2 separate regions of the Homo sapiens genome follow, and region 2 is linked to region 1. Evidence: fine-mapped expression QTL. Tissue or cell type: whole blood. Region 1 holds a variant in brackets; the other region holds the start of a gene. All regions are shown on one strand. Distances are from middle to middle.

Region 1 (5,773 bases):
ACTTTTATCACCTTAGATTCATTTTGCTTGTTCTTAAACTTTATGTAAATGGAATTATACCATATTTCCTGTTTTATGTTCAGCTTTTCCCAGTGTTACATCTGTGGCATTCATCCATGTTATTGCACATAACAGTAGTTTATCCTTTTTATTACTGTGTAATATTCCATTGTATAAGTATTTCAGTTTATTCCTTCTGTAGTTGGTAGACATCTGGGTTTTATCTCTTATATTTTAGAACTATAATCTATCTGAAGTTGTTATATATCAAGTTTCATGTCTTTCCACAAGGATATCCCATTGACCCAGGGCCACTTGTCCTTTCCCCGCTGCATTGTGGTGTGTCTTTGTTACAAATCAGGTGGCTGGCTGGGCACAGTGGCTCACACCTGTAATCCTAGCACTTTGGGAGACCAAGGTGGGTGGATCACAAGGTCAGGAGTTCAAGACCAGCCTGGCCAATATGGTGAAACCCTGTCTCTACTAAAAATACAAAAATTAGCCAGGCATGGTGGCATATGCCTGTAATCCCAGCTACTTGGGAGGCTGAGGCAGGAGAATTGCTTGAACCCGGGAGGTGGAGGTTGCAGTGAGCCAAGATCGCATCACTGCACTCCAGCCTGAGCAACAGAGCAAGATTCCATCTCAGAAATCAATCAATCAATCAGGTGGCCATTTATGTGAGCGTCTGTTCTAGGATCTCCATTCTGTCCCATTGTTCTACCATCCACCATGTCAATGCTACCCTGTCACAATGACTGAGACTTTTTCCTTACTGTATTCTCACGTAGAGCCCAGTAGAATAATTACAGGGCTTGGAGTCCCATTTCTTCAGGGAATATAGGTGGTTGGAATTCTGACACCAGATAAATCAAATATGCTGGAAAAAGAATTCCTATTTTAGGCAAAAGCTTTATTGGAAGTTTGCGGCATCCTTTCCGCATTGTTCATTGCTGTTCAGAGTGTTGCTGCTGTGGTGCTATAAATGCTCCCAGCAGCTCTCAGGTTTTCTTTCCTTCCAGCTAGCCTCCCCCTAACTTCCCACTCCAGCCAAAAAAAGATGCACTGTATAAGTCTCTGATGAGGGATAAAAATCCTTTAAAGTGTATTATTAATCTTGAGCTTTCAGCAAAAAAAAAAAAAAAAAAAAAAATTAGTTTTGATTTGCTTCTGATTCTCAGGTTTTTCTTTATGTTGGAATGTAATACTTCTTTCAATTTTATTTTATCTTATTTTTTTGAGACAGAGTCTTGGTCTGTCACCCAGGCTGAAGTGCAGTGGCGCAATCTCATCTCATTTCAACCTCTGCCTCCCGGGTTTGAGCGATTCTCCTGCCTTAGCCTCCCGACTAGCTGGGATTACAGGCATGTGCCACCACTCAGTGCTAATTTTTTGTATGTTTAGTAGAGATGAGGTTTCACCATGTTGGCTAGGCTGGTTTTGAACTCCTGACCTCAAGTGATCTGCCTCCCTCAGCCTCCCAAAGTGCTGGGATTACGGGCATGAGCCACTGTGTCCAGCCCCCATTTTATATTTTAGTATTTTTTTCTCTCTCTCTTTTTTACCATAAGCATCTGTTAAACTTTTAAATCTTCCTTAATTATAATATTTTAAAGAATATTCTAATTAAAACAGGCTAAGTACGGTGGCTCATGCCTCTAATCCCAGCACTTTGGGAGGCTGAGGCAGGCAGATCACTTCAGCCCAGGAGTTCAAGACCAGCCTGGGCAACATGACAAACCTCTGTCTCCAAAAGTTACAAAAAAAATTAGCAGGGTGTGGTGGTGCATGCTTGTAGTCCCAGCTACTTCGGAAGCCTGAATTGGGAGGATCGCTTGAGCTCGGGGAGGTCAAGGCTGACTGCAGTGAGCCATGATTGGGCCCCTGCACTCCAGCCTGGGCGACAGAGTGAGACCCTGTCTCCTGCTTTTTTTTTGGAGATAGGGTCTCGCTCTGTTTCCCAGGCTGGAGTGCAGTGACATGATCTCGGCTCACTGCAGCCTTGGCTCATGCAACCTCTGCCTCCCACGTTCAAGCGATTCTCCTGCCTCAGCCTCCTGAGTTGCTGGGTTGCTGGGATTACAGGCATGCGCCACCACAGCCAACTAATTTTTTTTTTTTTTTTTTTTAAGTAGAGAGCCAGGGTTTCACCATGTTGGTCTGGCTGGTCTCAAACTCCTGACCTCAAGTGATCCATCTGCCTTGGCCTCCCAATATGCTGGGATTACAGGTGTGAGCCACCTCGCCCAGCCAAGAGTATTTTAATTAAAGCAAAAGTTAAGGATATTCTTGTGTAGAACAGGGATTTTTTTTTTTTAATGTGATGTGTGCTTGTCAATTCAGGTTGAATATGAATGGGAGAAGAAATTTTTATTATAATTAGTTTTTAAATGACTCATCTTAAAAGAACCATTTAAGCCAAAATAGTTTTTAAAGGTTTAAATGTATCAATTAAAATATTTTTCTTTTTAGGAAAAAAGAAAAGGAGATTGAAGTTTGTGGAGGGCCGAGGGCGGAGGATTGACCCTGGCTCCAAGTTCACAAAGGCCTCAGTTCTTTATTAAAGTCATGAGTCAAAACCTGCATCTAGAGCTACGTCTTAGAGTTAGTCACATGGACGACAGTTCCCTGTATCTTTTTCTTTTTCTTTTCTTTTTTTTTTTTTTGAGACAGAATTTTGCTCTTTCACCCAGGCTGGAGTGAAGTGGCACAGTCTTAGCTCACTGCAACCTCTGCCCCCTGTGTTCAAGCGATTCTCCTGCCTCAGCGTCTGGAGTAGCTGGGATTATAGGCACCTGCCACTATGCCTGGCTAATTTTTGTAATTTTAGTAGAGATGGGGTTTTGCCATGTTGGTCAGGCTGCTCTCGAACTCCTGACCTGAGGTTACCCACCCGCCTCGGCCTCCCAAAGTGGTAGGATTATAGGCGTGAGCCACCGCGCCCGGCTGGCCCCTGTATCTTTTTCCTTCCAAATACACAGCTGTGTAGAAGGACAGTTATCTCTGGTACACCAGAGTCATTGTAGCACATTTTATTTACTGAGAGAAATATTTTGCCCCAGCATTCAGTTGGGTGAAAAATCAGGGAAGATCTTTATAAAACAGAAATGGCATAGGTTTTCTGGGATAGTTGTAGATAAGAGGTATTTATTCTTCCTAAATAATAGATATATGGTTATCATAAGGAAATATGATGAAAAATTGTTCATAACAGTAAC[A/G]TTTATTAAAATGCTTCCTAGGTGCCAGGAGTTATGACAAGTTCCTTATGTAATTATCTCACTGAACAATCACTTGTTCAAGATTTTGGTCTGACCTGAGACCTCATGTACTTGTTCATTGTATTTCCAAAATACACTTTCAACTTTTTTATTGTGTCACTAAAATCCTGCCATTTTTCCATTCATTGTTGCTAATAATACTTCTACATTTCAACATTTAGTTTCAACATGTATAGCTCTTAAATCTTGTAATTAGCAATAATTTGCCATTGGAACTAGAACTAGCGACATCGTGAGGTCAACATGTTTTTTTTTTTTTTTTTTTTTGCAAATCCTGCCCTTCACCAAAGGGCAGTCCATTCTTTACATGGCAAAAATACATGGAAATGTTTTACGTGTTATAAACAAACATGGCAGCAGCCCAGCTGTTGGAAGAATCTTCATTTACAGAGGCCACAATGACTCGGCACTCTACTGCTTCTTGAGACATGGGAAAGTGGCTTTTGCCTGGAAGAACACGAGTGGTTGCAGTTTTCTAACAAATGCTTGATAAGTAACATTCTCTTGAGTAACCTAATGGTAATAAGTTGAAAAGAGAGAATTAGGCCGGGCACGATGGCTCGCACCTGTAATCCCAGCACTTTGGGAGGCCGAGGTGGGCGGATCACCTGAGGTCGGGAGTTCGAGACCAGCCTGACCAACATGGAGAAACCCTGTTTCTACTGAAAATACAAAATTAGCTGGGTGCGGTGGCGCATGCCTGTAATCCCAGCTGCTCGGGAGGCTGAAGCAGGAGAATCTCTTGAACCCAGGAGGCGGAGGTTGCCATGAGCCAAGATCATGCCATTGCACTCCAGCCTGGGCAACAAGAGCAAAACTCCGTCTCAAAAAAAAAAAAAAAAAAAAGGAAACAGAGAATTAAAGCTGATAAGCTGATATTTGTATTCATCTCATATAAAATCTTTCAAGCACACCTCATGTCTTCCTTCTCCTTTGACCACCCCGTTCTAATGAGCATTTCCCCTCCTGCCTCATAGGAACTGCCTCCTGAGCGTGGAGCCTGCCATTAGCACCAAGCACCTCCCTTACCAGAGCTTCCAGCTCTTCGGCTTTGACTTCATGGTCGATGAGGAGCTGAAGGTGTGGCTCATTGAGGTCAACGGTGCCCCTGCATGTGCTCAGTAAGCCTGCACGTCATTGTGTTTTTACAAGTGGGAAGTTGGTTCTGCAGTTGGGATAGTCTGTGGGTACAAGTGTAGTCACTTTGACTGCTGTGAGGGAGGATGCCACAGTGATAGGAGACCCTTGGGAGGACTCTATCTGGCAGGGGGCTTTGCTGAGTCACTTCCTTTCCTATTTCCCCGTGTATAGGCCAGATAGGCCCAGTGTGGTAGCTCATGCTTGTAATCCCAGCACTTTGGGAGGCCAAGACAGGTAGACTGTCAGGTAGACTGTCTGAGCCCAGGAGTTCAAGACCAGCCTGGGCAGCCTGGCAAAACCCCATCTCTACAAAAAATACAGAAATTAGTCAGGCATGGTGCTGTGTGCCTATAGTCCCAGCTGCTCGGGAGGCTGAGGTGGGAGGATCACTTGAGCCTGGGAGGTTGAGGCTGCAGTGAGCCATGACTGCACCACTGCATTGCAGCCTGGGCGACAGAGAGACCCTGTCTCAAAAGTAAAAAATGTAAGCAGCTAGCCTGTGCTCAGGTGGGTGGGAGATGCCATGAGAGTGTTAAAGTTCATTACTGCCAGAGAGACCCGTATGACAAGCTGAGTAAGCAGGATCCTATGATGTGGCGACCCAGAAGTTCAGAGCCTCCTGAGGCAGGAAGGAGTCAGAGAAGGCATCTTAGACATGGGGGGTCTGGAGCTGGGGTGCAAGAAAAGAGGGTTCCGCTGCACCAAAGGTTGGTGGGGAGAGTCTTCCAAAAGAGGTGCAGCGTCCTGTGGGCTCTCACCCTGTCCCGGGCTCTGCAGGTCTGGGAGATGCCCAGAGGAACAGAAGCTCCTGAGAACCTGCTCTCCGGAACTTCTGCTTCTCTCGGGAGAAGGCTGGTTGTAGCATGAGCGTCATGGAGTCATTAAGGAGGAAGGAAGGTAAGAGAGGACCTTCTGTGGAAGGCCTTACGTGTCAGGGAAAGTCACTCGGACTCAATTCTCTTGTGCTGAGGGTTCTTCTGAAGATCCTCTTTCATGATGTCAAGACCCTTTCGTGGTTCCCATCTACATCTTGAAGAAATTGAGTGATTTTTCAAAATGTTTAAGAGAAAGTCCCGTACCTGCAAGGGACGATGTCAACACACCAAAGTTGTTCTTTACTTAGAAGCTAGGCCTTTGCCATTGCCTGATGGTTACGACAGGCATGATTGCATGATTCCATCTTGTTCATCAGTCTCTGCAGCCGATAAGTGCTTATCAGGTGCTGCCTACCTGGCCAGGCTCTGTATGAGGCCATGGGTTCACAGTGGGGAGCAAAGAGAGACACAGGCCCTACCTTTCGTGGGGAGAGACTGTGAGCAGACAGATACCAGGCAGATGTCAATTACAAGCGAGGA
Region 2 (5,773 bases), 380 kb before region 1:
TAGTACAGATGGGGTTTCACCATAATAGCTAGGATGGTCTCGATCTCCTGACCTCGCAATCCGCCCACCTCAGCCTCCCAAATGCTGGGATTATAGGTGTGAGCCACCACACCCAGCTTTTTTTTTTCTTTTTTTTTTAGATGGAGTCTCACTCTGTTGCCCAGGCCAGAGTGCAGTGGCACAATCTTAGGTCATTGCAACCTCCGCCTCCTATGTTCAAGTGAGTCTCCTGCCTCAGCCTCCCAGGTAGCTGGGATTACAGGTGCCTGCTACCACACTCGGCTAATTTTTGTACTTTTAGTAGAGACAGGGTTTCATCATCTTGGCCAGGCTGGTCTCAAACTCCTGACCTCAAGTGATCCGCCTGTTTCAGCTCCCAAAGTGCTGAGATTACAGGCATGAACCACCGCACCTGGCCTCTGTTGGGGTCTTAAAGACAAATTTCTGCAACAAATCTTCCCATTTTGTGTTGCATGCCTATGTTACACAGAGAACCTGAATGTATCAGAGCACTAATCCAAGGAGATGGCAACTGATCTTACCAAAAGATGTTTAAAATACTTTCTGTAGACATGTTGAACCCCACCAAACCAATCCCCCGACACTCAGGAATATTCTCTTGAAAACTAAATAGAGGGGAAATAGAGGAATAAACTAGCTGATAAGGGCCAGGCATGGTGGCTCATGGCTGTAATCCCAGCACTTTGGGAGGCTGAGACGGGTGGATCACGAGGTCAGGAGTTCAAGACCAGCCTGGCCAAGATGGTGAAACCCCGTCTCTACTAAAAATACAAAAATCAGCTGGGCATGGTGGCAGGTGCCTGTAATCCCAGCTACTTGAGAGGCTGAGGCAGGAGAATAGATTGCCTCTGTGAGGCAGCAGAGGTTACAGTGAGCTGAGATCATGCCACTGCACTCCAGCCTGGGCAATAGAGTGAGACTGTCTCAAAAAAAAAAAAAAAAAAGGCTGATAGGCCCATTGTATTCAGTTAAAGGTGAGGGTTGGGGGCTTAAAGGTAGAGCACCCAGCTGATTTTCATGGGCTGTCTGCTTGTAGACAGCCTTGGTAGGTTCTGGACTTGATAGGCTCTGCCTTGATTACTGCAGATCCAGGGCAGCTGAGGACAAAGACAGAGAAAGGACAGTGCTGCTGGGGCAGTCAGATCTTAGAAGGTTCATTCAGACCAGATGCCAGAACACTTAGAGGGAAGGCAGCCATAGGGAAAGGGTTACAAATATAAATAATTACATAGGAAAAAAAATCCTGTTGAAACTTAGAAATATTTGAAAAGTAAAAACAAAAGCAAAAACCCAAGAAAACAAAAAACAACAACAACAAAAAAACAGAAAACCCCCCATTACTGTAAATAAAATTCCTGAAATGCTATGATCATGTATTTAATATAAGCAACATAGTAGCCCTAAAATGAGAGGTGGGATAAAGTCAAAGGTAGTCTGTCCTAGAAACAGCACCGCTCTGGGAGGGGGATCTTGAGACCAGAGTTTGCATTCCTTGGGCAAGTCAGTCAACCATGCCCCGATTCAGCTTCTTCATCTGTGAAATCAAGAATCTCTTCCAGCTTTATGACTCCACAGAAAGGGCAGGAGAAGAGAAAAGAAGGCTTGCTTACATCTGCCCGATGTCTGGTTACCAGCGCATAGCCAGAACAAGGCTGAGAGCCAGAACAGCTGGCCTTCCAGAGAAGGTCGCCATGTAAACACAAGGTGGGATAGGACACAAAATATTAATAAATGCAGCCACACTGACCAGGAGGAAGCTTTTCAAGGATAGGGCAGAGGACAGAGAGACAGAGAGGGAGCAGGGCACTGGCTTTTGGTACAGACAGCAAACACATGAGAGATCGAGGCAGAAAACCACCATCTCCACAGGCTGCCCTGGATCGGGCCATGCTGTCCCGTCCTCTCCACCTGGATAGGGAGAAGCAGGGGTATGACCATGTCTCTCTTCAGGATGTTCAACCAGGAATGCAAAATAAAATTACATGGATCCCTTGCAGGCTGCAGTGGCTCACACCTATAATCCCAGCACTTTGGGAGGCTGAGGCGGGTGGGTCATTTGAGGTCAGGAGTTCAAGACAAGCCTGGCCAACATGGTGAAAACCTGTCTCTACTAAAAATACAAAAATTAGCTAGGCGTGGTGGTGCATGCCTGTAGCCCCAGCTGCTTGGGAGGCTGAGGCAGGAGAATTACTTGAACCAGGGAGGCAAGGCTGCAGTGAGCTGAGATCAGGCCACTGCACTCCAGCCTAGGCAACAGAGCAAGACGCCGTCTCAAAGAAAAAAAAGATTTACATGGGTCCCGTTCCACCTCCTTTGCATGGGAAGGTTGGGGGAGCAGCACTGTAGGATTTCCTGGGCAACCAATGCCCAGGAGGCCAGCCTAAACCATGTCCCCTGCTTTTTGGGGCACTGGCTAGGTTCTGAATGTTGGTGTCTCCCCTAAATTTATATGTTGGAAACCTCATTCCCAAGATGATGGCATTAGGAGGTGGGACCTTTGGGAGGTGACTAGGTCATGAGTGCAGAGCCCTCAAAATTGGGATTAGTGCCCTCAGAAAAGAGGCCCCAGAGAGCTGCCTTTCCCCTGTGAGGACACGGGAACCAGAACTCTGGCCCTCGCCAAACACCTAATCTATTGACACCTTGATCTTGGACCTCCCAGTCTCCAGAACTGTGAGAAACACGTTCTATTGTTTATAAGCCACTCAGTTTATGGTATTTTGCTATAGCAGTTTGAAGGGACTAAGCCAGGACTCCAGCTTTCCTTTCTGGCCTCTGCTGGGAAACAGCTCCTGCTCTGTGGTCACAGTCTTGTGGGCTCCCCGTTCCCTGAGCTCTGAGTGGGCTCAACAAAGTGAAATGTGGAAGAGGAAAAAGAGATCTGGGGCTTGACCAGACTTGTGTGTCCCAGGACATCTGCAGTGACTGCCTTCAGAAAACCTTCCAGGAAGAACGTCAGTCATGCCTTCCGGGAGCTCAGGTCTGAGGCATCTGGTTGTACCACAGCCCTGATGGCAGGGGACTTCAGACTGCTCATGCCGGCCTGGCACTTCCTGATTCGACTTCAGCAAGGCAGGCAATGTTCTAGAACCTGACCTCCGATTTAAACTGAGTTTCTCCTTCCCTTGAGCAAGGAGGACAGTGAATCAGAAGGACGTAGATCCCCTCACTGTATCACTGTGTGTGTATCTACTCACTGTGCGTGCGTGTTCTCACGGCCCCATTGCATTATTTAAAGGGACACTAGTTTATTCGGATGGAGAGCTCAGTCCACCCCACGTCAAGCTTATGAAGCCCATTTCCTGGCCCCCTTCTAGGAATGTCGGGAGGAGGGTGTCGCGTGGGCTTTGAAGTAGGACAGACCTGGGTTTGGGTTTCTGTTCTGCCACTTGTCCTTGGTGACTGAGCCTCAGTCTACTTGGTTGGGAAATAGGACGGTCGGGAGTGAACCCGCCCAGGGTGGGCTTCCAGTCACCCGCACATATGCGGGGCACTGGCCGCCCATCCCTGCCAGGCCCCGAGGATGCCCGCGCTCGTCCTCGGCGTCGCGGGTTGGGCGCGCTCCCGGGCGCATTCCCGGCCGGGCAGCCCCTCCTCCCTCGTCCTTAGCCCAGGGGCCGGCGCCTCCCCGCCTCGCGCGGACTGTCTCGTGCGGGCAGCTGCGGGCGCACCTGGACCCTCGCAAGGCCCGGGCGGCGCCGATCCCCGCGGGACGCGCTGCGCTCGGGGCCTCCCGCCTCCCCCCCTGCCCCAGCCGCCCCCCGGCCGCGCGGCGCCCCGCACCCTGCAGGGACGGCTGCCGCATCGCTGGGACAAACTCGGCAGCGGAGGCAAAGTTATTTCCCCTCCCAGGCAGCGGGATTCCGACTGGCAAGATGGTGCCCAGCTCTCCGCGCGCGCTCTTCCTTCTGCTCCTGATCCTCGCCTGCCCCGAGCCGCGGGCTTCCCAGGTCAGTGTCCCTCCCGCCTCTCTCCAGGCCAGTGTCCCTCCCGCCTCTCTCCAGGCCAGTGTCCCTCCCGCCTCTCTCCAGGCCAGCGTCCCTCCCGCCTCTCTCCCCTGTCCCTCCCGCCTCTCTCCCCTGTCCCTCCCGCCTCTCTCCAGGTCAGTGTCCCTCCCGCCTCTGTCCCCTGTCCCGCGCGCCTCTCTCCACGCCAGTGTCCCTCCCGCCTCTCTCCAGGCCAGCGTCCCTCCCGCCTCTCTCCAGGCCAGCGTCCCTCCCGCCTCTCTCCAGGTCAGCGTCCCTCCCGCCTCTCTCCAGGCCAGCGTCCCTCCCGCCTCTCTCCAGGTCAGCGTCCCTCCCGCCTCTCTCCAGGCCAGTGTCCCTCCCGCCTCTCTCCAGGCCAGCCAGTGTCCCTCCCGCCTCTCTCCACGCCAGTGTCCCTCCCGCCTCTCTCCAGGCCAGTGTCCCTCCCGCCTCTCTCCAGGCCAGTGTCCTTCACGCCTCTCTCCAGGTCAGTGTCCCTCCCGCCTCTCTCCAGGCCAGCGTCCCTCCCGCCTCTCTCCAGGTCAGCGTCCCTCCCGCCTCTCTCCAGGCCAGCGTCCCTCCCGCCTCTCTCCACGCCAGTGTCCCTCCCGCCTCTCTCCAGGTCAGTGTCCCTCCCGCCTCTCTCCAGGCCAGTGTCCCTCCCGCCTCTCTCCAGGCCAGTGTCCCTCACGCCTCTCTCCAGGTCAGTGTCCCTCCCGCCTCTCTCCAGGCTAGTGTCCCTCCCGCCTCTCTCCAGGCCAGCGTCCCTCCCGCCTCTCTCCAGGTCAGCGTCCCTCCCGCCTCTCTCCAGGCCAGCGTCCCTCCCGCCTCTCTCCACGCCAGTGTCCCTCCCGCCTCTCTCCAGGCTAGTGTCCCTCCCGCCTCTCTCCAGGCCAGCGTCCCTCCCGCCTCTCTCCAGGTCAGCGTCCCTCCCGCCTCTCTCCAGGCCAGCGTCCCTCCCGCCTCTCTCCACGCCAGTGTCCCTCCCGCCTCTCTCCAGGTCAGTGTCCCTCCCGCCTCTCTCCACGCCAGTGTCCCTCCCGCCTCTCTCCAGGCCAGTGTCCCTCCCGCCTCTCTCCAGGCCAGTGTCCCTCCCGCCTCTCTCCACGCCAGTGTCCCTCCCGCCTCTCTCCAGGCCAGTGTCCCTCCCGCCTCTCTCCCCTGTCCCGCGCGCCTCTCTCCATGCCAGTGTCCCTCCCGCCTCTCTCCACGCCAGTGTCCCTCCCGCCTCTCTCCAGGCCAGCGTCCCTCCCGCCTCTCTCCAGGTCAGCGTCCCTCCCGCCTCTCTCCAGGCCAGCGTCCCTCCCGCCTCTCTCCACGCCAGCGTCCCTCCCGCCTCTCTCCACGCCAGCGTCCCTCCCGCCTCTCTCCACGCCAGTGTCCCTCCCGCCTCTCTCCACGCCAGTGTCCCTCCCGCCTCTCTCCAGGCCAGCGTCCCTCCCGCCTCTCTCCAGGCCAGTGTCCCTCCCGCCTCTCTCCCCTGTCCCGCGCGCCTCTCTCCACGCCAGTGTCCCTCCCGCCTCTCTCCAGGTCAGTGTCCCTCCCGCCTCTCTCCAGGTCAGTGTCCCTCCTGCCTCTCTCCAGGCCAGCATCCCTCCTTCCTCTCTCCCCTGTCCCGCGCGCAGGGGAGGCAGCACCAAGGCTGGGGGACCCGGGCTTGCCACTTTCCACTCGGATGCCTGGGTTGAGAGCTCGGAGCGATGCCTGGGCTGGGGTTCAGTTTTCAGAGAGAGGTGCAGGGTCCCCCACCTGTCACCTCAGATGCATCGCTGGCCGGGCCCCTGGGA

The links. PIP is the estimated chance that this variant, and not a neighbour inherited with it, causes the effect.
Region 2: it holds the start of FBLN7, and the variant in region 1 is fine-mapped to the expression of FBLN7 in whole blood (INTERVAL, PIP 0.96).

What each region holds. Positions count from the first base shown.
Region 1 is chr2:112,516,027-112,521,799 of GRCh38, forward strand. It overlaps TTL (tubulin tyrosine ligase), which reads left to right. Exons shown (of 7, transcript NM_153712.5): 6 at 4,256-4,399. Among named protein-coding and RNA genes, the nearest start is that of POLR1B, 24 kb to the right of the region's middle. The variant A/G (reference allele first, on the strand shown) is at 3,219.
Region 2 is chr2:112,134,760-112,140,532 of GRCh38, forward strand. It overlaps FBLN7 (fibulin 7), which reads left to right and starts at 3,626. Exons shown (of 8, transcript NM_153214.3): 1 at 3,626-3,971. The coding sequence starts at 3,897. RefSeq lists an enhancer at 5,443-5,773.